3 linked regions of the Homo sapiens genome follow. The protein of the gene in region 2 interacts with the protein of the main gene of each other region in a pairwise test. Each region holds a gene or a part of one and is shown on either strand. Other genes may lie near its edges. The genes, in order: NOP58, NUFIP1 and ZNHIT6.

Evidence for each region.
Region 1: the proteins of NUFIP1 (region 2) and NOP58 interact in binary tests that used the Homo sapiens proteins (3 or more experiments, as listed by UniProt).
Region 3: the proteins of NUFIP1 (region 2) and ZNHIT6 interact in binary tests that used the Homo sapiens proteins (3 or more experiments, as listed by UniProt).

The regions. Positions count from the first base shown.
Region 1 is NC_000002.12:202,260,974-202,269,135, reverse strand, and holds the start of NOP58 (nucleolar protein 58), read right to left. Parts: upstream 3,374-8,162; 5' UTR 3,195-3,373; coding exon 3,150-3,194; intron 1-3,149. UniProt on the Homo sapiens protein: Required for the biogenesis of box C/D snoRNAs such as U3, U8 and U14 snoRNAs. Part of the small subunit (SSU) processome, first precursor of the small eukaryotic ribosomal subunit.
Region 2 is NC_000013.11:44,978,803-44,986,982, forward strand, and holds part of NUFIP1 (FMR1-interacting protein NUFIP1), read right to left. Parts: intron 3,353-8,180; coding exon 3,270-3,352; intron 2,019-3,269; coding exon 1,920-2,018; intron 1,151-1,919; coding exon 1,088-1,150; intron 465-1,087; coding exon 388-464; intron 1-387. UniProt on the Homo sapiens protein: Binds RNA.
Region 3 is NC_000001.11:85,704,525-85,713,424, reverse strand, and holds the start of ZNHIT6 (box C/D snoRNA protein 1), read left to right. Parts: upstream 1-4,991; 5' UTR 4,992-5,140; coding exon 5,141-5,796; intron 5,797-6,917; coding exon 6,918-6,983; intron 6,984-7,069; coding exon 7,070-7,176; intron 7,177-7,261; coding exon 7,262-7,347; intron 7,348-8,900. UniProt on the Homo sapiens protein: Required for box C/D snoRNAs accumulation involved in snoRNA processing, snoRNA transport to the nucleolus and ribosome biogenesis.

The sequences.
Region 1 (8,162 bases), on a different chromosome or scaffold from region 2:
CTTGAGCCTGTAGTCCCAGCTACTCGGGAGGAGGTGGGAGGATCACTTGACCCAGGAGGCCAAGGCTGCAATGAGCCATGATCCTGCCACTGCACCCCAGCCTGGGTGACAGAGCAAGACCCTGCCTCAAAATAAATTTTAAATACATAAACATGAATTTGTATGTGTACATGGGTTATACATAAAATGTTTTCCTCACTGTAAATGGAAGTTTAAAAAAAACTTCAAGGCCAGGTGCAGTGGCTCACGCCTGTAATCCCAGCACTTTGGGAGGCTGAGGCGGGCAGATCACCTGAGGTCAGGAGTTCGAGACCAGCCTCAACATGGAGAAACCCTGTCACTACTAAACATACAAAATTAGCTGGGCGTGGTGGTGCATGCTGGTAATCCCAGCTACTCGGGAGGCTGAGGCAGGAGAATTGCTTGATCCTGGGAGGCAGAGGTTGTGGTGAGCCAAGATCGCGCCATTGCACTCCAGCCTGGGCAACAAGAGTGAAACTCCGTCTCAAAAAAAACAAAAAAACAAAAAACTTCAAAAAACTTCCTAAAGCATTCTCATCAAAGCATGAATTATATGCATCCAATATAATTTTTTTTTTTGAGACGGAGTTGTGCTCTTATTGCCCAGGCTGGAGTGCAATGGCACGATCTCAGCTCACCACAACCTCCGCCTCCCGGGTTCAAGCAATGCTCCCGCCTCAGCCTCCCAAGTAGCTGAGATTACAGGCGCACACCACCACGCCCAGCTAATTTTTCTATTTTTTTAGTAGAGACGGGGTTTCACCATGTTGGTTAGGCTGGTCTCAAACTCCTGACCTTGTGATCCGCCGGCCTCGGCCTCCCAAAGTGCTGGGATTACAGGCATGAGCCACCATGCCTGGCAACCAACATAATTTTATACCCTAGCATTTTGAAAGATTATGGGAAAGGAAACTAATAACTTTGAACCGTATGTCTACTTTTTTAGGAGATAAAATTCACCATATATCATATTAATTTTACATGTATCTTAATATTTGCCCTTTTAAAGTGTACAATTCACTTTTTAGTAGTGCATTTTCACAAAAATGTGCAGCCATCACTAGTTCCAGAACGTTTGTATGTCTTTTATACTCAGAAACGATCAATGTTAATTCCAATAATTACAAACTAATCAATGTCAACATATTCGAGCTTAACTAGTTATTTCTTTAGTACTAGGTTACATAAACCACAATTTAATCATTTTGAACAGTAACTTGCAGATAAATAGCACTGCAAACTCCAACGGAATACTCAAAGACATTTTCATGGAGGAGGACACTTTTCATTAATAGAAATCAGTAATTCATCGAGACACGGTTGAGTATTTTAGGACCCAGGTCTAGAAATCCGACCATTGATAAGCCAATTCCTTCCTACCATGGGAGACAACCAGTGCACTGTGCAGAGTTGCTCCTCTTCACATCCGGTACAGGACAGTATACTACGGCAATTAACGGTGAAATTCATCGATAGACACTTACAGACCACATTGGCTAAGAGAATTTGAAGCTATGCAGAACTCTACATGGTAATTTAGATAAGATTCCAAAAAGCTGGAGAAAAGTAAAATTGACATGTTTCGTAGCTCTAAAGGGGACTAAGGAGCTTACTTACAAGTTCCTTAAAACACTAATACGGCAATTGCAGATAACTCCAACTAAGGTAAAAACAAGCAAAACTGCCTTTTCGGTTTTAATGATTTTATTGGTTTTCTTAAAAATAACATTTGACGTATCAAATGCAAACTGCGTATTTTCAAATGTCAGAAGTGAAACATGGAGAACTCTGCACCCATCCAGACTTTCTTGCATCCACACCACAAATGGTTTTTTGGTTCATAGCTAAAATTGTATTACATTTATTTTTACCTAGCGTTTTTGCTTTCTACCAACATATATATATGTAGAATATACATAAAAACTTTATTTTTCATTGCTATATTCACAGACCTCAGAAGAGTTGCACCGCACAAGAAAAGGCACTCAATCTCACTCATTCTTCCTAACATCTCAACAGCATCTTGCGATACGAATGTCTTACCATTCAACCATTTCAGTGCTGACGAACTTGTCAAACTTTCCCCACGAAAACAACCAAACCTCAAACTGACATCACCAGCCCAGATGTTTTCCCCTAAGCTTCAAATCTGAAATACTGAACTGCCCGATCTACACAACTGCATTATCAGGTCTAATAGACAACGCAAGCTTCGCACAGCCCAAACCGGAAATCTTTAGTCCTTCCCCAAGAAACTTTCTTAACATCTTATTTAAACCAAAACCCCACATTCAATCTATTAGCCAGTCCTTCCTGTTCTACCTTCACAATTTCTATCGATATTTGTTTCTCTCCATACCAGGCAATTTCATCTTGTCCAAATGAATGCAAAAGTATTCTTGCTGCCGTTCTTATCTCCTCGAGTCTAATCTCCACACAGCAGAGTAACCGTATTAAGACAAATTAGCAGGTCATTCCTCTGCTTAAATCCTTTCGATTGGCCGAGCACGGTGGCTCACGCCTGTAATCCCAGCACTTTGGGAGGCCGAGGCAGGTGGATCGCTTGAGGTCAGGAGTTCAAGACCAGCCTGGCCAACATGGTGAAACCCCGTCTCTACTAAAAGCAAACAAACAAACAAAAACAACTAGCCAGGCGTGGTGGTGGATGGAGGCCTGTAATCCCAGCTACTCGGGAGGCCAAGGCAGGAGAATCGCTTGAACCCGGGAGACGGAGGTTGCAGTGAGCCAAGATTGCGCCACTGCACTCCAGCATGGGCAACAAGAGCGAAACTCCATCTCAAAAAAAAAAAAAATCTTTCGATCATTCCTCAAAACATCTAGAATAAAGTCCGAATTCCCTATAATCTGTTAAATTCTAACACGCCTCCTGCCCACCCCTTCAACGGGAGGAAATAAAATCCTCTAATGCAGAACGGGTCTCCCCAAACGGCGGGGCCACGTGTTACACGTAACATGGCTCTCAGGTGTAAAGGCCTTCTCCCTCCTCCCAGAGCCCGGGCTATAACAGGCACCCACGCTACTCTGAGTAGTTCCGTGCTTAAGTCTTTCCCTCTCCTCGTCTGTCCAGCATCCGCCTTCCCCCTTTAACGGCTCGCTCTCCCACCTACCTTAAAGATGGCGTAACCCACAGACGTTTCAAACAGCACCAACATGGTGAGGCCGGGTCAGGGCGCCGCACGGCCTGCCAGAAGCTGTAGAGTCAGTTCAAAAACACCGACTACGCGGCCTCAAAAGGCCTCCTAGGCCGCGGCGGGCAAAGCACAAATGCGCTCGCCGTCCCGCAAAGAATCAGAACACGCTGCCTAAACCCTCCACGCTGTACTGGAACTAGGACGCACGAACGCGCTACTCCTTCTCTGAGGATTCTGGGATAGCAACGTCACTTCCGACAGAAGACTGCCGCAGAGATTGCCGTCACTTCCAGAATGTTCCCGCCACAGCGGGCTGGGGCGGGCCGAGAAAGTTTGTATCGCGGGATCTAGGGCCTGAACGGAGCCTTTGCGCCTTTTTTTCTTTTTTCTTTTTTTCTTTTTTGGAGACGGAGTCTCGCTCTGTAACCCAGGCTGGAGTGCAGTGGTGTGATCTCGGCTTACTGCAACCTCCGCCTCCCGGGTTCAAGAAATTCTCCTAGCCGGGCGCAGTGGCTCACGCCTGTAATCCCAGCACTTTGGGAGGCCGAGGCGGGCGGATCACAAGGTCAGGAGATCGATCGAGACCATCCTGGCTAACACGGTGAAACTCCGTCTCTACTAAAAATACAAAAAATTAGCCGGGTGTGGTTGCAGGCGCCTGTAGTCCCAGCTACTCGGGAGGCTGAGGCAGGAGAATGGCCTGAACCCAGGGGGCGGAGCTTGCAGTGAACCAAGATCCTGCCACTGCACTCCAGCCTGGGCGACAGAGCGAGACTCCGTCTCAAAAAAAAAAAAAAAAAAAGAAATTCTCCTGCCTCAGCCTCCCCAGTAGCTGGGACTAGAGGCACACACCACCACGCCCAGCTAATTTTTGTATTTTTAGTAGAGATGGGGTTTCAGCATGTTGGCCAGGATAGTCTCGATCTCTTGACCTCGTGATACGCCCGCCTCGGCCTCCCAAAGTGCTGGGATTACAGGCGTGACCCACTAGGCCCGGCCTTTTTTTTTTTTTTTTTTTTTTTTTTTTTTTTTTTTGAGACAGTCTGGCTGTTGCCCAAGCTGGAGTGCAGTGGCACTATCACGGCTCACTGCAACCTCCAACTCCCAGGCTCAAGCGATCCTCCCACTTCACCCTCCGGAGCAGCTGGGACTACAGGCCTGTGCCACCACACCCAGCTAATTTTTTGTAGAGACAGGGTTTCACGATGTTGCCCAGGCTGGTCTCGGACTCTTGACCTCAAGGGATCCTCCCACCTCGGCCTCCCAAAGTGCTGGGATTACAGGCGTGAGCCACCGCGCCCCGCCACCGCTAGAGATTTAAAGGGGAAAAACTTCACGATATTATTTTGTTAACCCTCTATGAATTATATGTTCACTTTGAGAGAAACGAGGAGCTGTTTCGGTGCCAGTCTGCCTCAGGCATCTAGAATTTGAAATGCCAGCTAGTGCCATTAGACTTTATCCCCTTTCAAGCCCTGCCTTGAGGCGAAGGCCTCAGAATGACACCATTACTGTCACTATATTTGTGAGCATTCCTGGCCGTTCCCTTCTGTCTGGCCAAATGAATTATTAGCACAGTTTTCTTTCAATAAGCCTCTCCTATTTTTGCTGCATTTGTTAAAATGACCCCAGGGTATGAATTTAGAATGTCTTTTTTTTTTTCTTTTTCTTCTTTGTTTTTTTTGAGACGGAGTTTCACTCTTGTTGCCTAGGCTGGAGTGCAGTGGTATGATCTCTGCTTACTGCAACCTCTGCCTCCCGGGTTCAAGCAATTCTCCTGCCTCAGCCTCCCGAGTAGCTGGGATTACAGGCATGTACCACCACGCCTGGCTAATTTTGTATTTTTAGTAGAGATGGGGTTCCTCCATGATGGTCAGGCTTGTCTCGAACTCCTGACCTCAGGTGATCCACCCACCTCGGCTTCCCAAAGTGCTGGGATTACAGGCATGAGCCACTGTGCGGGGCTGAATTTAGACTGTCTTCTTGATTTAGTGTTACTTGCTTTTCTGGAAGCCTTTCAGTCTCAGGGACTGGGATTAAATACCCCAGTTGTTTCACAAGTCTGTCTTCCAACAGGGGTAAAATTTCCTTACTCACTTCCCAGGCCCTATATGCAGATTGTTCCTAATCATTAAATTGCAACCTGCTGGGAGAATTGCTTGAACCCAGGAGGCGGAGGGTGCAGTGAGCCGAGGTGGCACTACTGCACTCCAGCCTAGGCGACACAGCGAGACTCCATCTAAAAAAAAAAATTGCAACCTGCTCAAGATTGTGGAACATTAAATAGGTAGCAACTCTGCAACCTGAGATTAAGAGGAAAGAAAATCCTGGGTTGAATAACAGAAAGTCACAGGACAGAGGAATCTAGGGTGAATTCTTTTTTTTTTTTTTTTTTTGAAACGGAGTCTCAGTCTGTCGCCAGGGCTGGAGCGCAGTGTCGCGATCTCAGTCACGATCTCAGCTCACTGAAGCCTCTGCCTCTTGGGCTCAAGTGATTCTCCTGCCTCAGCCTCCCCAGTAGCTGGGATTACAGACACACGCCACCATGCCCAACTAGTTTTTGTATTTTTAGTAGAGACGGGGTTTCCCCATGTTGGCCAGGCTGGTCTTGAACTCCTGACCTCAGGTGATCCGCCTGCCTCAGCCCCCCGAAGTGCTGGGATTACAGGCATGAGCTACCACGCCCGGCCTAGGGTGAATTCAAGAGCATAATTGGCCGAGTGTATGGTTCACGCCTGCTATGATCTCACCATTACACTCCAGCCTGGGCTACTAAGCAAGACCCTGTCTCAAAAAAGAAAAAAAGCATGGTTGATTATAGTTACAGCTGTAATCCAGTGTGGTCAGGGAGACAAGAGAGACGAAAATTACCTGATTGGGAGAGGGGTATGCGTGGGTGGGTGAGATGTTAGAAACACCATGTCTGTTTATAGTGTTATTTAACTGCACAGTATTTTTCTGTCTAGTCTCCTTAGCAGAAGTGACATCTGCTAGAGAATTGAGTCTACTTTACACATATTTGTGTCTGTATAGGATGTTATGTTGTGCTACTCATGAAATAGAATCTAATTAATTCTTAAAAATTTAATGAATGAATGTCTGCAGGAAGTAAAAATTCTTTTCTTTACGTGTAAAGCCTTAAATCCTATTCCCAAAATGAAATGAAACCACTTATTCAATGAGAAATCTCTTTGCCATGGTATGTCCTAGAATTTGTCCTTGCACGTTACCATTTACATAGTCACCTCCATATGATGCTTTAATCAGGAGTTCAGAGCTGACTCTGATTTTGGGTTTGTAACTTGACCAAATAAAGTAATTGGAGATTTTCTTTCTTTCTTTTTTTTTTTTTTGAGATGCAGTCTTGCTCTGCTGCCCAGGCTGGAGTGTAGTGGCATGATCTTGGCTCACTGCAACCTCTGTCTCTTGGGTTCAAGCAATTTTCTGCCTCTGCCTCCTGGGTAGCTGGGATTATAGGCCCCTGCCACCACACCCTGCTAATTTTTGTATTTTTAGTAGAGATGGGGTTTCACCATGTTGGCCAGGCTGGTCTTGAACTCCTGACCTCATGATCCACCCACCTCGGCCTCCCAAAGTGCTGGGATTACAGGCATGAGCCACTGCTCCCGGCCAGTAATTGGAGATTTTCTCTTGCAAGGGAGAAGTAAGAGTCTTAGTACTTTGTTAAAGTACTGAGTGAAGGGGAGATAGCACAAAGAAATATAAGAAGGAGAATATAGGAGAGTACAGATGATAGAAGGGCTTACAATTTTTTTTTTTTTTTGAGACAGAGTTTCGCTCTTGTTGCCCAGGCTGGAGTGCAATGGCATGATCTCAGCTCACCGCAACCCCTGCTTCCCGGGTTCAAGCGATTCTTCTGCCTTAGCCTTCCGAGTAGCTGGGATTACAGGTATGTGCCACCACGCCCAGCTAATTTTGTATTTTTAGTAGAGACAGGGTTTCTCCATGTTGGTCAGGCTGGTCTCGAACTCCTGGCCTCAGATGATCTGCCCACCTTGGCCTCCCACAGTGCTGGGATTACAGGTGTGAACAACTGCGCCCGGCCAGGGCTTACAATTTTACTGGTGGCTAACATGGTGAAATAACAAGGATGAGAAACATGGTTCGTCTGTCCTCTCTGTACACCCCAACTCCACCCCTGTTCCAACTAGAATATAAACTCTATAAAAGTTAGTTGCAAAATCTGCAAGTACTAGGCTAGTATCTGGCACGTAGTAGAGATTCCATAAACATGACTAGTAACTAAGTAAATGAATGGATGAATGGAATGAGTGAATGGTGGGATAATTTCAAGGTGCTAGTAGAGCCTCCAGGGACTTTTTGGAACCTAATGAGATTAGCCAAAGACACCATTTTGGTCAGACACCTTCCATGTGCCTGGTAACAAGAAGGGGATGTTCTGGGTGGTGAATATCTTTTATGTATTCAACAAATATTTGAGTGTCTACTCTGTGCCAGGCATTCTTTTTTTTTTTTTTTTTTTGAGATGGAGTCTCACTCTGTTGCCCAGGCTGGAGTGCAATGGTAGGATTTCAGCACTCACTGCAACCTCCACCTCCCGGGTTCAGGAATTCTCCTGCCTTAGCCTCCTGAGTAGCTGGGACTATACAGGTGCGCACTTCCACACCCGGCTAATTTTTGCATTTTTAGTAGAGACGGGGTTTCACCATGTTGGTCAGGCTGGTCTCAAACTCCTGACCTCGTGATCCACCCACCTCGGCCTCCCAAAGTGCTGGATTACAGGCGTGAGCCACTGCACCCAGCCTGTGCCAGGCATTCTTTTTTTTTTTTTTTTTTTTGAGATGGAGTTTCGCTCTTGTTGCCCAGGCTGGAGTGCAATGGCGCGATCTCCGGCTCACCGCAACCTCTGCCTCCTGGGTTCAATCAATTCTCCTGCGTCAGCCTCCTGAGAGCTGGGATTACAGGCCGCCACACCGAGCTAATTTTTTATTTTTAGTAGAGACGGGG
Region 2 (8,180 bases):
CACCTTAGTTTAAGGTTTCAGTTTAAATCCACTGACATGGGTAGTCATGTGCCAGATGTACTGTTCTGTGATAATACACTTCTGTATAATACACTTTTTGGTAAGAGTACCCACCCATTATTGCCTCAACCACTGAACATCTGACAGGTGACATGCAGTAGCCCCCCTCAAAGAGCAACATACAGTCCCATTATGACACATTTGCTACTTAAATGAAGAGTTCTTATTAGGTCTTCCTAAAACTACGTTCAATAATAGTCTTACATAATATGCCTTATGGTCCTCTTCCCTAGTTCCAACATTCTAAGGGAATTCAATGAATTTAACTACATTAATAAGCCTTGTCACAGTAAAACAGTTATTTCACCAGTTCTGAACTCTACTCACTTCCTTCTTTCTTCCCTCCACCGTGCAATTTCCTCTGGAGTGTCTAACTTGATCTTCTTCATGCCAGGAGCATGCATCTAGGGGGAAAAAGCCTGCTGAACATCAGGAGGCAATATCATATGCTTTTGACTAACTTGGAGACTTTGTTTCTACAAGTAAACTTATGTTGGACACAATTTTAAAACCAAGTAAGCAGGTTGTATCTATTTGTGTTATAACTTTTCCTTTAAAGGAAGAAGAATCTATCATGTATTTAATTAGTGCTATTAATAGAGGGAAAAGGGGTAACATAATTTTGATTACAAAGTAGATATGCCACCCATTCTCTCAAATGACATTAAACACCCAAATGAATGACTTACCAATCAAAACCTAGAGAGGCCACTAAAGATATGAGTAGACGTGACAATCTGTAGCAGCATGGTGTAGTAAAGCAGTATACAATTTGGAGTCAAGAAACTGAGGTCCAAGAATCAATTCTCAGGCCTTGGGCAATTCATTTTTTAAAATATTTTAAATGGGGCCAATATAAACAACCATAGTTGTTTGTGAGGAAAAAGTTGAATAAATGATGTCAAAATCCTTACAAAGTACTCCATTAGTGTTACCTATTATTAGGTATATAAATAAACAGTTGTGAAGATAACAGATCAATAAAAAGAGCATGTATTTAAAAATAGGATAAAAAAACAGAACTTACATTTCTCCAATGGAACTGGACAATCTTCTCGTGTGCAGTAAAAGAGCAATCTAATTCAGGGCACTATGAGTTTTTAAAAGAAAAAAAAAACTATTTAACAAATGTTTTCCATGTTAAATTTACCCCACTATACATACACAGACATATTCTGGCTGTATTACATAGTTATCCCATCTGTATAGTATTATCTCTGCATACAAAAATGACTCCAAAACAGGGCTGCCTTTAGGCAAAGGAATGACACTCTCAGAGTATGTGGCACAATAATATATCTTATTTACTTCTCCATTTGAGCAAAGGCATACATCAATAAACCTGTGAAATGCTCTTAATTCCTAAAGTTGAGGGGCATTCCCAAAAACAGAAAAAGAACCTTTCAAAACCAAAGGCTTCCTTTTAAACCTTTTAAACATTTTGGTTAAAGTTTTCTAGCTAGTACCTGACAAGGTGTGGACCAGCCTTTGAGGGTGATAGGCACAGCCACATTACACAGTATGGTTTAATGGTCAAGGGCAGACTTAAAGGGGAAAGAACTCATTAAGATGCACAAGGTAACTAGAGGAGAGGACAGCCTCTTCCCAAGCAGTAGAGGTACACACATACAAAAAGCTGTCAGAGCTCCCTTCTTTGCTACCATCTTACCTCGTCCCTGAAGCAGCGGGATCCCCACTTTCAAACCCCAGGGTCACTGCCCCTATCTGTCAAGTTGTCAAACTATATCTCTACAGAAACTATAAACTTTAAAGGAAAACAAGCTTGGCATTTCTACCAAATATACAGATAGAAGAAGCACAATTGCTACATCAGTTTCAGGACAACTAAGAAAACCTACTTTTGTATGTTCAGACATGTGTTTGTCATACTTTTCTTGATTTTTAAAACCACGATCACAGGTATCACAAAAAAAGTGAAAAACTGGTTCCTTTCTTTTCTGCAAACAAAAACAGAGAGGAATTAGGCTTTTGGTGAAAAATCTGTAATCAATAATAAAAACATAACTATCATTCTAGTAATACACACTTTGATGTTTCCAATAACCCTTTCGTGTGGGAGAAGCTTGTGAGTATATTTCCAATGAAGAGATTATTCTATTTCTTTCTTTCATTTTGTTTTTAACAAATATATTAGTGAAACCCAGGCATAATTTTAAACTTTTTTAATCCAAATAGTGCTAATATAAATTATGAGCAGATTGCAAATTGGTTATCTAATTAAGACTCAGTACAGAATATGTTGAAATGATCTGAAAATAAATAGAATAAAAACAGCAGCTCATCTTTTAGAAAAAAATAACTACAGCTGACCCTTGAACAACACAGGTTTGAACTGCAAGGGTCCACTTATAAAAGGATTTTTTTCAGTAAATATATTGGAAAATTTTTTTGGAGATTTGTGACAATTTGGAAAAACTCACAGATAAACCACATAGCCTTAGAAATATCAAAAAAAAAAGTATGTCAAGAAGGTATAAAATATATGTGGACACCATTTCATTTCTATACTAACCGACTATTTATGTTATTGGTAAGACTTCCAGTCAATAGTAGACCATTAGTAGTTAAGTTTTAGAGGAGTCAAAAGTTACACACAAACTTCTGACTGCACCTCTAACTGTTGCGTTGTTCAAGTATCAACTATATGGCCAGGCATGGTGGCTCACGCCTTAATCCCAGCACTTTGGGAGGCGGAGGTGGGCGGGTCACTTGAGGTCAGGAGTTCGAGACCAGCCTGGCCAACACAGTAAAACCCCAACTCTACTAAAACTACAAAAATTAGCCAGGTGTGGTGGTGCGCACCTGCAGTCCCAGCTACTCTGGGAGGCTGAGGCAGGAGAATTGCTTGAACCCAGGAGGCGGAGGTTGCAGTGAGCCAAGATCGTACCACTGCACTCCAGCCTGGGCGACAGAGTGAAACTCCATCTAAAAAAAAATAAGGTAAAATAAAAGTATCAAATATATATCTATTTCTAAAACCACAGAAAAGAAACAAAAATTTAGTTATGTATTATTTTTGAATCCCAATTTGCTATATTCATGTTTAACCATAAAATTCCTTTTTATAGCAAGGCTCCACTGTGTCAATAATGGAAGCAAAACACTGAAGACAGTTATGACAGAAATGCAAGATATGAAACAGTAACATAGGGACCAAGGGGTCAAATTCAAGAACATCTTTCAAATACCTTTTTTTTCTGTTTTCTACTGGGAGGTAAGCTGAAGTCTGTGAATTTTGCATCATACTTTCGTGGATAATAAGAATTTTTAACTAAAAAAAAAAAGATCCATAAATGTTTGCAACAATGTAATTATTTAAATTATAATTAAATTTTATCTACTACAGCATGTTACAAATATTTCAGTAAAAACACTAGTAAACTACCCTTCTAGGAAGAATACTAGTTCAAACAAAATAACAAAGATTAAGATTAGTCTACCAAATGACTATTTTTCAAACAAAGAAAGACTGGTGTGATTATATGTCCACAGAAACTTTAGGCGTCAAAGTGCAGAAATGGACAACCTAACCTGATGAAATTCCTTCGGTTATTTCAAATATTAGAAATGTAACCAGTAAAATCCCCAACACTGCTCCTTCAGCATCAATTTCGCACCAGGAAAACAGAACCTTGTGAAATATATCTCCTCTCAAATCCCACTGTACTTTTCCATTCTTATTACCATGCCCCAAGTCAGAAATTCTGATCTTCCACCAGATTACTCCTATATTGTCTTCCAGTTCATAAGCCCCCTCTTCCAACAAACCTTACATACTGACACCAAAAAAAAAAAAAAATTCTCCAATCCTGTCACAACCTGGCTCAAAAATTTGCATATGGACCAGGCGTGGTGGCTCATGCCTATAATCCTAGCACTTTGGGAGGCTGAGACAGGAGAACTACTCAAGGCCAGGAGTTCATGACCAGCCTGGGTAACCTCACATGACCCCATCTCTACAAAAAAATTTAAAAATTAGCTTGGCATGATGGCATGCACCTGTAGTCCTAGCTACTGTGGAGGCTGAGGTGGGAGGATCACTTGAGTTCAGGAGTTTGAGGCTGCAGTAAGCTATGATCATGCCACTACACTCCAGTCTAGGCAACAGCACAAGACCCTGTCTCTGTCTCTTTTAAAAAAATTATTCTTTGTATAGAGATGGGGTCTCACTATGTTGCCCAGGCTGATCTCACACTCCTGGGCTCAACCGATCTGCCTGCCTCAGCCTCCAAAGTCCTGGGACTGCAAGCGTGAGCCACCATGCCCAGCTGACCCTGTCTCTTATTTTATTTTATTTTTTTTGGCGGGGGAGATGCAGTTTCGCTCTTGTTGGCCAGCCTAGAGTGCAGTGGCACAATCTTGGCTCACTGCAACCTCTGCTTCCCAGGTTCAAGCGATTCTCCTGCCTCAGCCTCCCGAGTAGCTGGGATTACAGGCATGTGCCACCATGCTCAGGTAATTTTCGTATTTTTTAGTAGAGACAGAGTTTCACCATGTTGGCCAGGCTGGTCTCGAACTCCTGACCTCAAGTGATCCACCTGCCTCGGCCTCCCAAAGTGCTGGGATTACAGGCGTGAGCCACCGCACCCAGCCCCCCGTCTCAAATAAAAAAAAAAAAAAAGTTGAGGGAGGGGCTGGCATGATGGCTCACATCTATAATTCCAACACTTTGGGAGGCCAAGGCGGGCAGACCACTTGAGCCCAAGAGTTTGAGATCAGCCTGAGCAGCCTGGCGAAACTCTGTCTCTACAAAAAATACAAAAATTAGCCAAGCTTGGTGGTATGTGCCTGTAGTCCCAGCTACTTGTGAGGCTGAGATGGGAGAATCACTTGAGCCCAGCAGGTTGAGGCTGCAGTGAGCCATATATGTGCCACTGCACTCCAGCCTGGGCCACAGAACAAGACCCTGTCTCAAAAAGCAACAATAATAAAGGATGAGTTTGACCTTCTCTCACTCTCTCTCACCATGTGATGCCTTTCTTGATGTCACCATGCAGCAAGAAGGTCCTCAACAGCCCCTTGATCTTGGACATAACCTCAAGAACTATGAGCCAAATAAATTTCTGTTCATTATATATTACCCAACAGGTCATACTCTGTTATGGCAGCACAATAGGGACTAAGACAGCTTCCTAGAGACCTTCCATGAGATTCTAATTTATTTTCTTACCCTACCCTTCCCCATACCTTTCACATACTCTGCTTCAGTCACACCAGAACCCTGCAATCTCCAGAACTTGCCTTGTACTGACACCTCTTTCTCTACCTAGGAAACATCTCTTCCCAAATTCTATACATCTCCTAAGACACTTCTTCCAAAAGCTTTTCCCAATTTCCTCTACATTCTGAAATCAGCTATTATATGCCTCTATCATCAGTCACACTGTATTTTGATTCATACTTATAACATATCTCATCTGACTCAGCCAAGTCCGTATTTCCAGCATCTGCCATACAATAAACACTAACTGTTTGGGCCAGGTGTGATGGCTCATTCCTGTATTCCCAGTGCTTTGGGAGGCCAAGGCAAGCAGATCACTTGAGGTCAGGAGCTCGAGACCAGCCTGGCCAACATGGTGAAACCCAGTCTCTACCAAAAATACAAAAAATTAGCCAGGTGTGGTAGTGCGTGCCTGTAGTCCCAGCTACTCAGGAGGCTGAGGCAGAAGGATCCCTTGAACCCAGGAGGTGGAGGCTGCAGTGAGCCGAGATGGTGCCACTGTACTCTAGCCTGGGTGACAGCAAGAGACTCTATTTAAAAAAATAAATAAAATAAAATAAAAATAAAACACTAATTGTTCAGATTCAGTTTAATGCAGAATTGAATTTTTTTTTATTATTATACTTTAAGTTTTAGGGTACGTGTGCACAATGTGCAGGTTAGTTACATATGTATACATGTGCCATACTGGTGTGCTGCACCCATTAACTCGTCATTTAGCATTAGGTATATCTCCTAATGCTATACCTCCCCGTTCCCCCCACCCCACAACAGTCCCCAGAGTGTGATGTTCTCCTTCCTGTGTCCATGTGTTCTCATTGTTCAATTCCCATCTATGAGAGAGAACATGTGGTGTTTGGTTTTCTGTCCTTGCAATAGTTTACTGAGAATGATGACTTCCAATTTCATCCATGTCCCTACAAAGGATATGAACTCATCATTTTTTATGGAATGCAGAATTGAATTTTCTGCAAAGTTGGAGAATGGTTTTAAATTAACACTCTTGTAGCTTGAAATATGATCTATATGGTGTCAACACCCAAATTTATAGCTCCAGCCACAAATCTCCCCTGAAAGTAGACTAATAGCTAAAAGCCTATTCAATATCTCTACCTGACACAAATATATTCCAACTTTAATTCCTGGACTTCCTTCCAAATCTGCTCCATCCACATTCTTACCTATCTCAGTTAATAGCAACTCCATCCTTCCAATTGTTTGGCAAAAAAACTTTAAATTATCCTTCTCTCCTCTTTATCTTGCATCCCATATATCCTATCTTTCAGTAAATCATGCAGTCCCCACCTTTAAGGTATAAAAGCACATCTCATTTCACTGCACTTCGTTTTACACAGCTTTTTGCAAGCTAAGGGTCTGCGGCAACCCTACATCAAGCAGGTCTATCAGCACCATTTTTCCAACAACAATGTGCTGTCTTTGTGTCACATTTTGGTGATTCTCGAAATATTTCAAACTTTTTCATTTTTATTACGTCTGTTATACTGATCTGTGATCAGTGATCTTTGATGCTACTACTGTAATTGTTTTGAGACACCATGAATCGTGGCCATATAAGATGGTGAACTTTATAAATGCTGTGTATGTTCTAACTGCTCTACCAACCGGTGGTTCTCCTCTCCCTCTCCTCAGGCCTCCCTATCCTCTGAGACGCAATATTCAAAAGTAGGCCAATTAATAACCCTATCATGGTCTCTAAGTGTTCAAGCAAAAGGAAGAGTCACATGTCTCTCATTTTAAATCGAAAGCCAGAAATGATTAAGCTTAGTGAGGAAGACACGTTGAAAGCTGATACAAGCCAAAAGCCAGGCCTCTTGTGCCAAACGGCTAGCCAAGTTGTGAATGCAACTACTGAGAAAGGGTCTCACTGTCAGCCAGGCTGGAATATAAAGGTGCAGTCATAGCTCATTGCAGCCTCAAACTCCTGGGCTCAAGGGATCCTCCTGCTCTGCCCTCCTGAAGTGCTGGGATTACAGTCGTGAGCCACCGTGTCTGGATGAAAAGTTCTTGAAAGAAATCCACAGTGATTCATAGATAGTGATTCCTCTAATGGATCTGAGCAAAGTAGATTAAAAACCTTCTAGAAAGGAGGTTTTGATTCACTATTCAAGATACCATTAAGAACATTCATGATTTATGGAAGGAGGTCAAAAGATCAACATTAACAGGAGTTTGAAAGAAGAAATTCCAACCCTCATAGACGATTTTGAGGAATTCAAGACTTCAGTGGAGGAAGTCACCTCAGATGTAGTAGAAACTGCAAGAGAACTACAATTAGAAGTGGAGGGGCCAGGCGCAGTGGCTCACGCCTATAATCCCAACACTTTGGGAGGCTGAGGTGGGTGGATCACGAGGTCAGGCGATCGAGACCATCCTGGCTAACATGGTGAAACCCCATCTCTACTAAAAATACAAAAAAATCAGCCGGGCGTGGTGGTGGGCGCCTGTAGTCCCAGCTACTAGGGAGGCTGAGGCAGGAGAACGGCGTGAACCTGGGAGGCAGAGCTTGCAATGAGCCAAGATCGAGCCACTGCACTCCAGCCTGGGCAACAGAGCAAGACTCCATCTCAAAAAAAAAAAAAAAAAAAGAAGTGGAGCCACAAGATGTGACTTGCTGCAATCTCATGGTAAACCTTTAATGGATGAGAAGTGGCTTCTTATGGATGAGGAAAGAAAGTGCTTTTTTGAGAAGGAATCTACTCCTGGTGAAGATGCTGTGAACACTGTTGAAATGACAACAAAGGATTTATAATATTATATAAACTTAGTTGATAAAGTAGCCTCGACTTCCTGGGCTCAAGGAATCCTCCTGCCTCAGCCTCCCATGCTTCTAGGACCACAGGCATTCCACCACGCCTGG
Region 3 (8,900 bases), on a different chromosome or scaffold from region 2:
CTCTCAAAGGAATAGGAGCTCACCAGAGAAAATATTATAAAATCTGGACTGTAATTCTAAAAGATTTTTTTAAGCTGGATAATTTATACTGGAGGGACAGAATTAATGGACAAAAAACTGAAGATTTTTAAAAGAGTCAAAAGTCGGGCATGGTGGCTCACGCCTGTAATCCCAGCACTTTGGGAGGCCAAGGTGGGTGGATCACCTGAGGTCAGGAGTTCAACACCAGCCTGGCTAATATGGCAAAACCCTGTCTCTACTAAAAATACAAAAATTATCTGGGTATGGTGGTGGGCACCTGTAATCCCAGCTACTGGGGAGGCTGAGGCAGGAGAATCACTTGAACCTGGGAGGCGGAGGTTGCAGTGAGCCAAGATAGCACCATTGCCCTCCAGACTGGACAACCAGAGCGAGACTCCATCTCAAAAAAATAAATAAATAAAACGAGTTAAAGGACTACCTTCAGAGAGATAAAAAGGGATATTAGAAATATGAAGCAAAATAAGCTACAGACAATGGTTATGAAAAACATAGTGACTGAAATGAGCTTAGTGGATAGGTTGACTAACAGATTGCATACCATCAAATACCAAAATAGTAAGGTAGAAATTACTTGGGGAACTCTCCCAGAAAGTATCTGGAAGCAATAAAGAGATGGGAAACATAAAAGTTAAAAGGTATGCAGAAAACTCTGATAACAAAACCTAACATTACAAGAAAAAAGAACTACAGATAAATAAACATCCTTCATAGACGAAAACTCCTAAACAAAATGTAAGTTAATTGAATACAATTATATAGAGATATTATAAAACATTTGAGTTTATTAAGGTTGCAGGATATGAAATCAAAATACAAAAATCAATTGTATTTCTGCAACCTAGCAATGAAAAATCCAAAATGAAATTAAATGAGTAATTTCATTCAAAATCACATCAAGGCCAGGTGTGGTGGCTCACGCCTGTAATTTCAGCACTTTGAGAAGCTGAGGTGGGCGGATCCCTTGAGCCCAGGAGTTTGAGACCATCCTGGGCAACATGGCAAAACCCCATCTCTACAAAAAATACCAAAAAAAATTTAGCTGGGCATGGTGGCATGCGCCTGTGGTCCCAGCTACTTGGGAGGTTGAGGTGGGAGAATAGCTTCAACTCAGGAGGTCGAGGCTGCAGTGAGCCATGATTTTGCCACTGTACTCCAGCCTGGGTGACAGAGGGAGACCCTGTGTCAATTTAAAAAAAAACAAAAACCACATCAAGAATAAAATGCTTAGGAATAAATTTAGCAAAAGATATGTAAAAACTTGTACACTGAAAACTACAAAGCATTGTTAAGTGAAGTTAAAGACAATATAAATAAATGGATGGCATTCCGTTTTCATGGATAAGACACAATGTTGTTAAGATGACAATCCTCCCCTCACTTATCTATATATTCCACACAATCCCTATGAAAATCCCACAAGTTCTTTTGTAGAAATTGACAAGCTGGCACTAAATACACAGAGATGCAAACAACCAAGAATAGCCAACACAATTTTCAAAAGAAAAGAAAGTTGGACTTACTATAAAGTTATAATAGAGTATGGTATTTGTGTAAGGATAGACATATAGATCAGTAAAACAGAATATAAGGTCCAGAAATAAATCTTTATCTTTGTGGTCAATTGATTTTTTTAAATATCAAGGCAATTCAAGGAAAAAGAATAGGCTTCAACAACTGGTGCTTGGACAATAAGATATCCATATTAAAAAAAAGAAACTTAAACCATTACCTTGTCCACCTTATGGATGATATCCTTAGTTCTGCCACATGTGGGTTCCACCAACCATGGATCAAATTTCCACAGCTGGTGGAACCTACAGATGTGGAACCATGGATGCAGATGGCAGATTGTAGGACTTGAGCGTTCTCAGATCTGTGGTGGTCCTGGAACCAATCCCCACAGAAACAGAGGGATGACTCTAGATACAAAAGCCAACTCAAAATGGATCACAGACCTAAATGTAAAAGCTAAAACTATAAAACTTCTAGAAAATATAGGAGAAATATCTCTTTGCAACCTTGGGCTAGGCAAAAAGTTATTAGTGTGACACAAAAAGCACCATTCATTTAAAAATTGAGAGGCTGGGTGCAGTGGCTCACTCCTGTAATCCCAGCACTTTGGGAGGTGGGTGGATTACCTGAGGTCAGGAGTTCGAGACCAGCCTGGCCAACATGGTGAAACTCCATCTCTAATAAAAATACAAAAATAATTAGTCAGGTGTGGTGGCACCTGCCTGTAGTCCCAGCTACTCGGGAGGCTGAGGCAGGAGAATCACTTGAACCCAGAAGGCGGAGGTTGCAGTGAGCAGAGATCCCGCCATTGCACTCCAGCCTGGGTGACAAGAGCGAGACTCCATCACAAAAAATAAAAATAAAAATTGATAAACTGGATTTAATTGAAGTGTAAAATTTTTGCTCTTTTAAAGATACAACTAAGAAAAGGAAAAGCCACAAACTGGGAGAAAATATTTGCGAACCATACAAGGAATTGGTATTAATTATGCATTGCTTTGTATCAATTATCCAGAAATTTGGCAGTTTAAAACAAGAAACATTTATCCCCTCCCACAATTTCTGAGTGTCCGGAATCTGGGTTCAGTTGTTGGCCAGAGCCGCAGTCATGTAAAGCTGGACTAAGACTAGAGAATCTTCCTCCAAACACATTCATATGCTATTGACAGGCTGAAATTCCTTGCTGATTGTTGGCCAGTGCATTCGTTTGCCAAGGCCACTATAATGAACTAGCATAGACTGAGTGACTTAAATTTATTTTCTCACAGTTCTAGACGCTAGAACTCCAAAATAAGTTGTCACCAGTCTTGTTTTTTTCTGAGGCCTCTCTCGCTGGCATGCAGGTGGCCACCTCACTGTATCATCGTATAGTCTTTTCTCTCTGCAGGCATCCCTCGTGTCTCTTTTTGTGTCCAAATTTCCTCTTCTTATAAAGATATCAGTCAGATTGGATTAGGGCCGACCTTAATGGTCTCATTTTAACGAAATCACCTTTAAAGGTCCTATCTCCAAATATACTCACAGTCTAAGGTACTGGGTGTTACGGATTTAACACACGAATTTGAGGGGACACAATTCAGCCTGTAAGAGCCAGTAACTTCGGCCCACTACCACATGGGCCTCTTGGTACTCACAACCTGGCAGCTTGCTTCCCCCAGAGTGAATGATCTAGGAAGGAGACCAAAAAAGCAAGAGCCTAAGGCAGAAACCACAGCCTTTCTCCAAACCTAATCTTAGAGGTAACGTATTACTTCTGCTGTATGCTATCAGTGACACAGACCAATCCTGGGATGATGCAGGAGCAGTCTACACATTGGTCTGAACACTGTGGGGGTGGAGAATCACTGGGGAACATACTGGTGCTTGTCTACCACAAACCTATATCCATAATATATGAAGAACTACTACAATTTGATAATAAAAGACGTCAATTAAAAATGGGCAAAAGATCTGAATAAACATTTCATTAAAGAAAATATCCAAATGGCCAGTTGGCAGATGAAAAGATGTTCAACATCATTAGTCATTAAAGAAATGTAAATTCTCAATGACGTACCCCTACACATCTATAATCAAATAACTGATAATACTAAGAATTGGCCGGGATGTAGAGAAATAGGAACCCTCAGCCAGTAGGAATGTAAAATGGTATAGCTACTTTGGAAAACAGTTTGGGCATTTCTTTAAAAATTAACATAAATTTATATGGCCCAGCAATTCCACTCCTAGTTATTTACTTAACGGGAAATGTAAACATGTCCACACAAAGACTTGCATATGAATGTGGAAGCAGAATTATTCGTAATAGCCCAAACTGGAAACAAGCCAAATGCCCACCAACTGGTACATGCATGAAAAAACGTGCCACATTCATACAATGCAATGTTATTCAGCAATACCGGGCATTAGGCACTTTCGCCTAATATATTTATGATGTTCTCTGAGAGAATCCTGCAGAATGCTGGGAATGGGGAATAGCCTGACGCAGGCTGTTACTTAGAAAGAATGGAAAGAAAAATTAATGCCCTCTTTCCTACTTGAAACCCATCATGATTCCCAGTTATACACTGAGTTTGTGTCTGTCACTGACAGTTGATTCCTATGCATGATCTCATATTATCTTCGCAATGACACTGGGAGATTTATATTAATAATACCATGCTCCCTAGTTTATAGCTTCAAGAAACTAAAGCTTGCAAAGGTGTAACATCAGGTGTGTCCTTTTTCATACAAGATTGGATTTAATGGTTAACACAGATAAGGGTGGGTTTTCCCATTTCCAGAGTGTAAGGGTTTCGCTTCTCTCCCTCTGCCGGTCTCCTCCACTGTTTACACCCAGTAGGGCGTGGAGGGTGGCCTAGGGTGTGGCCCAGGAGGCTTCCCTAAGGGAAGGGGGTGGTGGAAACCAGGCGGTTTGAAGCCCATCAGGATTCCCAGTTATATATCGAGTTTGTGTCCGTCACTGCTAGTTGATTTCCATGCATGATCTCATATAATCTTTGCAATGACACTGGGAGATTTATATTAATAATACCATGGTCCCTAGTTTATAGCTTTAAGAAACTAAAGCTTGGAAAGGCCTAATAACATCAGGTGTGTCCTCCATTTTCATGCAAGATTGGATTTAATGGTTAACACAGATTAGGGTGGGTTTTCCCACTTCCAGAGTGTAAGGGTTTCGCTTCTCTCCCTCTGCCGGTCTCCTACACTCTTTACACCCAGCAGGGCGTGGAGGGTGGCCCAGGGAGTGGCCCAGGAGGCTTCTCTAAGGGAAGAGGGTGGTGGAAACCAGGAAGGAGACGAGAACCCCAGCGGGCAAGTCACGCAGTTACGCTTGTTCGCCCAGAGAATCCGGCAGGGCCTCCGCAGAGCCGTAAAGAGCTCTACAAGTCGTGAAGGGGCGAGGCGCAAAAGCGTAGCTTTACGGCGATTCGAGCAGTCGCGTCAAGCAGGCTATTCCGGGTTTGTGGCTGCTTGGCTCCACACGTGGGCCGCCGTAGGTATTCCGACCGGTAATTCCTCCTATTGGTGTGCAGCAGCCACATTGAAGGATAGAGTGGCAGCAGAGGCCAAGGATCGTGAGTTGATGGAGTTTGCTGCTGAAAATGAAGGGAAGTCTGGGGGAGGTCTCCACAGCGTAGCTGAGGGGGTGCGGCTAAGTCCAGAGCCTGGCAGGGAGGGAGTAAGGGACTTAGCAGGGGCGGAGGAGTTCGGCGGCGGAGAGGAGGGGACAGGGCTGACAGGGATAAAGGAGATAGGGGATGGAGAGGAAGGAAGTGGACAAAGGCCAGAGGAAATACCGATGGACCTAACGGTAGTGAAGCAGGAAATTATAGACTGGCCAGGTACAGAAGGCAGGTTGGCTGGCCAGTGGGTAGAACAGGAGGTGGAGGATAGGCCTGAGGTGAAGGATGAGAACGCAGGCGTATTGGAGGTGAAGCAGGAGACGGATAGTAGTTTAGTGGTAAAAGAAGCGAAGGTGGGTGAACCAGAGGTAAAGGAAGAGAAGGTAAAGGAAGAGGTAATGGACTGGTCAGAAGTGAAGGAAGAGAAGGATAACTTGGAGATAAAACAGGAGGAGAAGTTTGTTGGTCAATGCATAAAAGAGGAATTGATGCATGGAGAGTGTGTAAAAGAAGAGAAGGATTTCCTGAAGAAAGAAATCGTGGATGATACAAAGGTGAAAGAAGAGCCTCCGATAAATCACCCGGTGGGCTGCAAGCGGAAACTGGCCATGTCAAGGTAGGGCATGGGGGATTCCATTTAGGGGAATAAAGCTGTGGAGTCCTCATGTCTAGAGTGAAGGAAACCACACTATCAGGAGAAGGTGGAATAATGAAAAATGAGCACAAGTTTGGGTTTCTGGAGTCAGACGGCGTTCGCGGGGGTGGGTTGGGAAGTGGAGGGTGTTGTACATGACAACACAACAAATTCAGTGAAAATACATGAAATTAGTAGTGTCCAATGGGTAATGGTCAAGTTAGGAAAGTGGAAATTCTGGGGACCAAAAGATCAGTTGGAACTGGATCTGGCTTGACTTAATATGCTCTTTACTCGGTATTCCTTTGAGAGAGAATAGAGATGAGAAAGTCTAATAAAACTAACAATGACAAAGTAGATTAAGTTAAAACTAGGCAAAAATACACTTGACCTCAATTATCAAGCTTCTTCATGGGTGCTGTGAATATTTATTGCTTTTGATTGAATTTCCTTAGTGTGTGGATCATGTGACAAAGGAAATAAGAGTAGTCAGATTCTTGAGAATATTCCCGTCTAGAACACAGTGGGCTAAATAGAAGTAACTGTAGTTTGGTTGTCAGTATCCCAGGAGCATAGAAGAGCAGTTGAGGACAGATGATGGGTTACATGGCATTTCTAGATTATTTCGATGCTCATTCTAGATTAGGCGTGGAGTTCAGGAAAAAGGGTGCTACTACTACTCTCTAAATTTCACTTGGCCTTATATTCTTTGTCTGGTGTGTGCTTTAAAAATATCTAAACATAGCTCATGAATTGGACTTCTGGATACACACACATACAATCATTACCACATTTCCAGGAATCACAAGTTAAAATATCAGTGAATAATCTCATTCCCTGATTATAGTAGAAAAAGAAGTCAAAAGCGAGATGGGTTTTAAAAATTTTAATACATTTTCCTGAGTTACATATCACTAACAACATTGGAAATGTAGTTGTTTTGGGAAGGTTTCATAGAGAAGAATTTTCAAATGATGTTCAACAGCTATCAAATATTTTATCAGTTACTTGTCACTGAGTTTATAAATTGATTGGGAATTCTAAGTTTATAAATAAATACAATTAATATTTGATAATTTAATGTTACATGTGGGCTTTTGTAGGTGTGAGACTTGTGGTACAGAAGAAGCAAAGTACAGATGTCCACGTTGTATGCGATATTCCTGCAGGTATACATGTAACTTCCTACCTTTTAACCTGTATCTGTACCTTTCTTACCCTAAAATATAAAAGTACTTCCCCTTTGTCTTTTCAGTTTGCCCTGTGTAAAGAAACACAAAGCAGAACTGACATGTAATGGAGTTCGAGATAAAACTGCATACATTTCAATACAACAGTTTACTGAAATGAATCTCCTAAGTGGTAAGCCACTTTATGCATAGCAAATTGAGGCTTCCTGGCCATTGGTATATGTCACTTGTTTATTCTTCTGTTTTGAAATTTTTAGATTATCGATTTTTGGAAGATGTGGCAAGAACAGCGGACCATATTTCTAGAGATGCTTTTTTGAAGAGACCAATAAGCAATAAATATGTAAGATTTTTTCCTAATTTCTTCCAGTTAGAAGTCCTTCAAATCAATTAGATTCTTTTTTTTTTTTTAACTTACCAAATATATTAAGTGGCTACCATGATGTAGAGCTATTCTGATTACTTAAGGATATGGCTGTGACCCAAACAAAGTCCGTCCCCTCGTGGAGTTGTATTTAGTGGGAGATATAGGAGATAAGTAGAGGAACAAATGTAATTTCAGATAGAGTTAAGTTCATATAGAAAATAAAGAAGGCTCAAGAGATTAAAGAGAGAATGAAAATGGTCTTTGTTGGGGAGAGATTGTCAGGGTACTATTTTCGATACAGTGGTCAGGAGAAGCTTCTCAAAGAGATGATGTGTAAGCAGTGATCTGAGTGCTGAGAAAGAGGCTGTCATGTGAACATTTGGAGGCAGATTATCCCAGGTAGGGACAAAAGTAAAAGGAAAGACCTGAGTCAGAAACAAGGATGTCTGGTTTGAGGAATTAAAAGATTTGCAAGGTAACTGAAGCATAGTGAGTGAGGAGGAGAGTATTGAAAATGAAGTTAGAGAAACTGGTGAGGAGTTGGGTGCAGTGGCTCATGCCTGTAATCCAAACACTTTGGGAGGCTGAGGCCAGAGCATTCCTTGAGCTCAGGAGTTCAAGACCAGCCTGGGCAACATGGTGAAAACCCGTCTCTATAAAACAATACAAAAATTAGCCAGGCGTGGTGGCGTGCCCCTGTACTCCCAGCAACTTGAGAAGCTGAGGTGGGAGGATCACCAGAGCCCAGGAAGGTCAAGGCTGCAGTGAGCCATGATTGCGCCACTACACTCCAGCCTGGGCAACAGAGTGAGACTCTGTCTCAAAAGAAAAAAGAAAAGAAACTGGTGAGGGTTTCTAATTCTAAGTGCAAATGGAAACCATGGAAGGGTTTTGAACATAAATTTGCCTTTTGAAAAACCACTCTTGCACTTTGTGAACTTTAGCGGGGCAAGAATGGAAGATTGGAAGCAGGGAGACCAATTATGCAGCTCTTCCCATGATCCTTGTGAGATAATAGTGGCTTGGGTGTACTGTTTGAATTATTGGGAAGGGATTAGATTGCGATTTTGAAGGAAGAGCTAACAAGACTTGCTATTCTAATACACTTAATTTTCATACTCTTGCATTCCTTTTTTAATTCCTTAAATACTATGCAAAATTAAAGCTTACATATTTGGAATATTTGGCAACTGGTGTTGTAGAAATTTGTTTATGGTGTGATTAAATCGTATCCTGGAATTGTGTTCATTTTAGTATTGGAGTTGCAGAATTTTAATACCTTTTAAACACCTTATTTTATTGGTATTATTGGTACAGACATAATTACATTACACATATCTGAAAGAAAATTATTCATATAGCAACTCTTATTTTTCCTCAAACTTAATTAGGCATAATTAAAATTCTACTTAAAGATAAATTACTTTACAATTTTTTTTTAAATTGTGAAATATAGCAAGTATATTTTCTAAACATCACAAAATGGAAATACACAGTATAATGAATAATTATAAAATGAATATTCATTT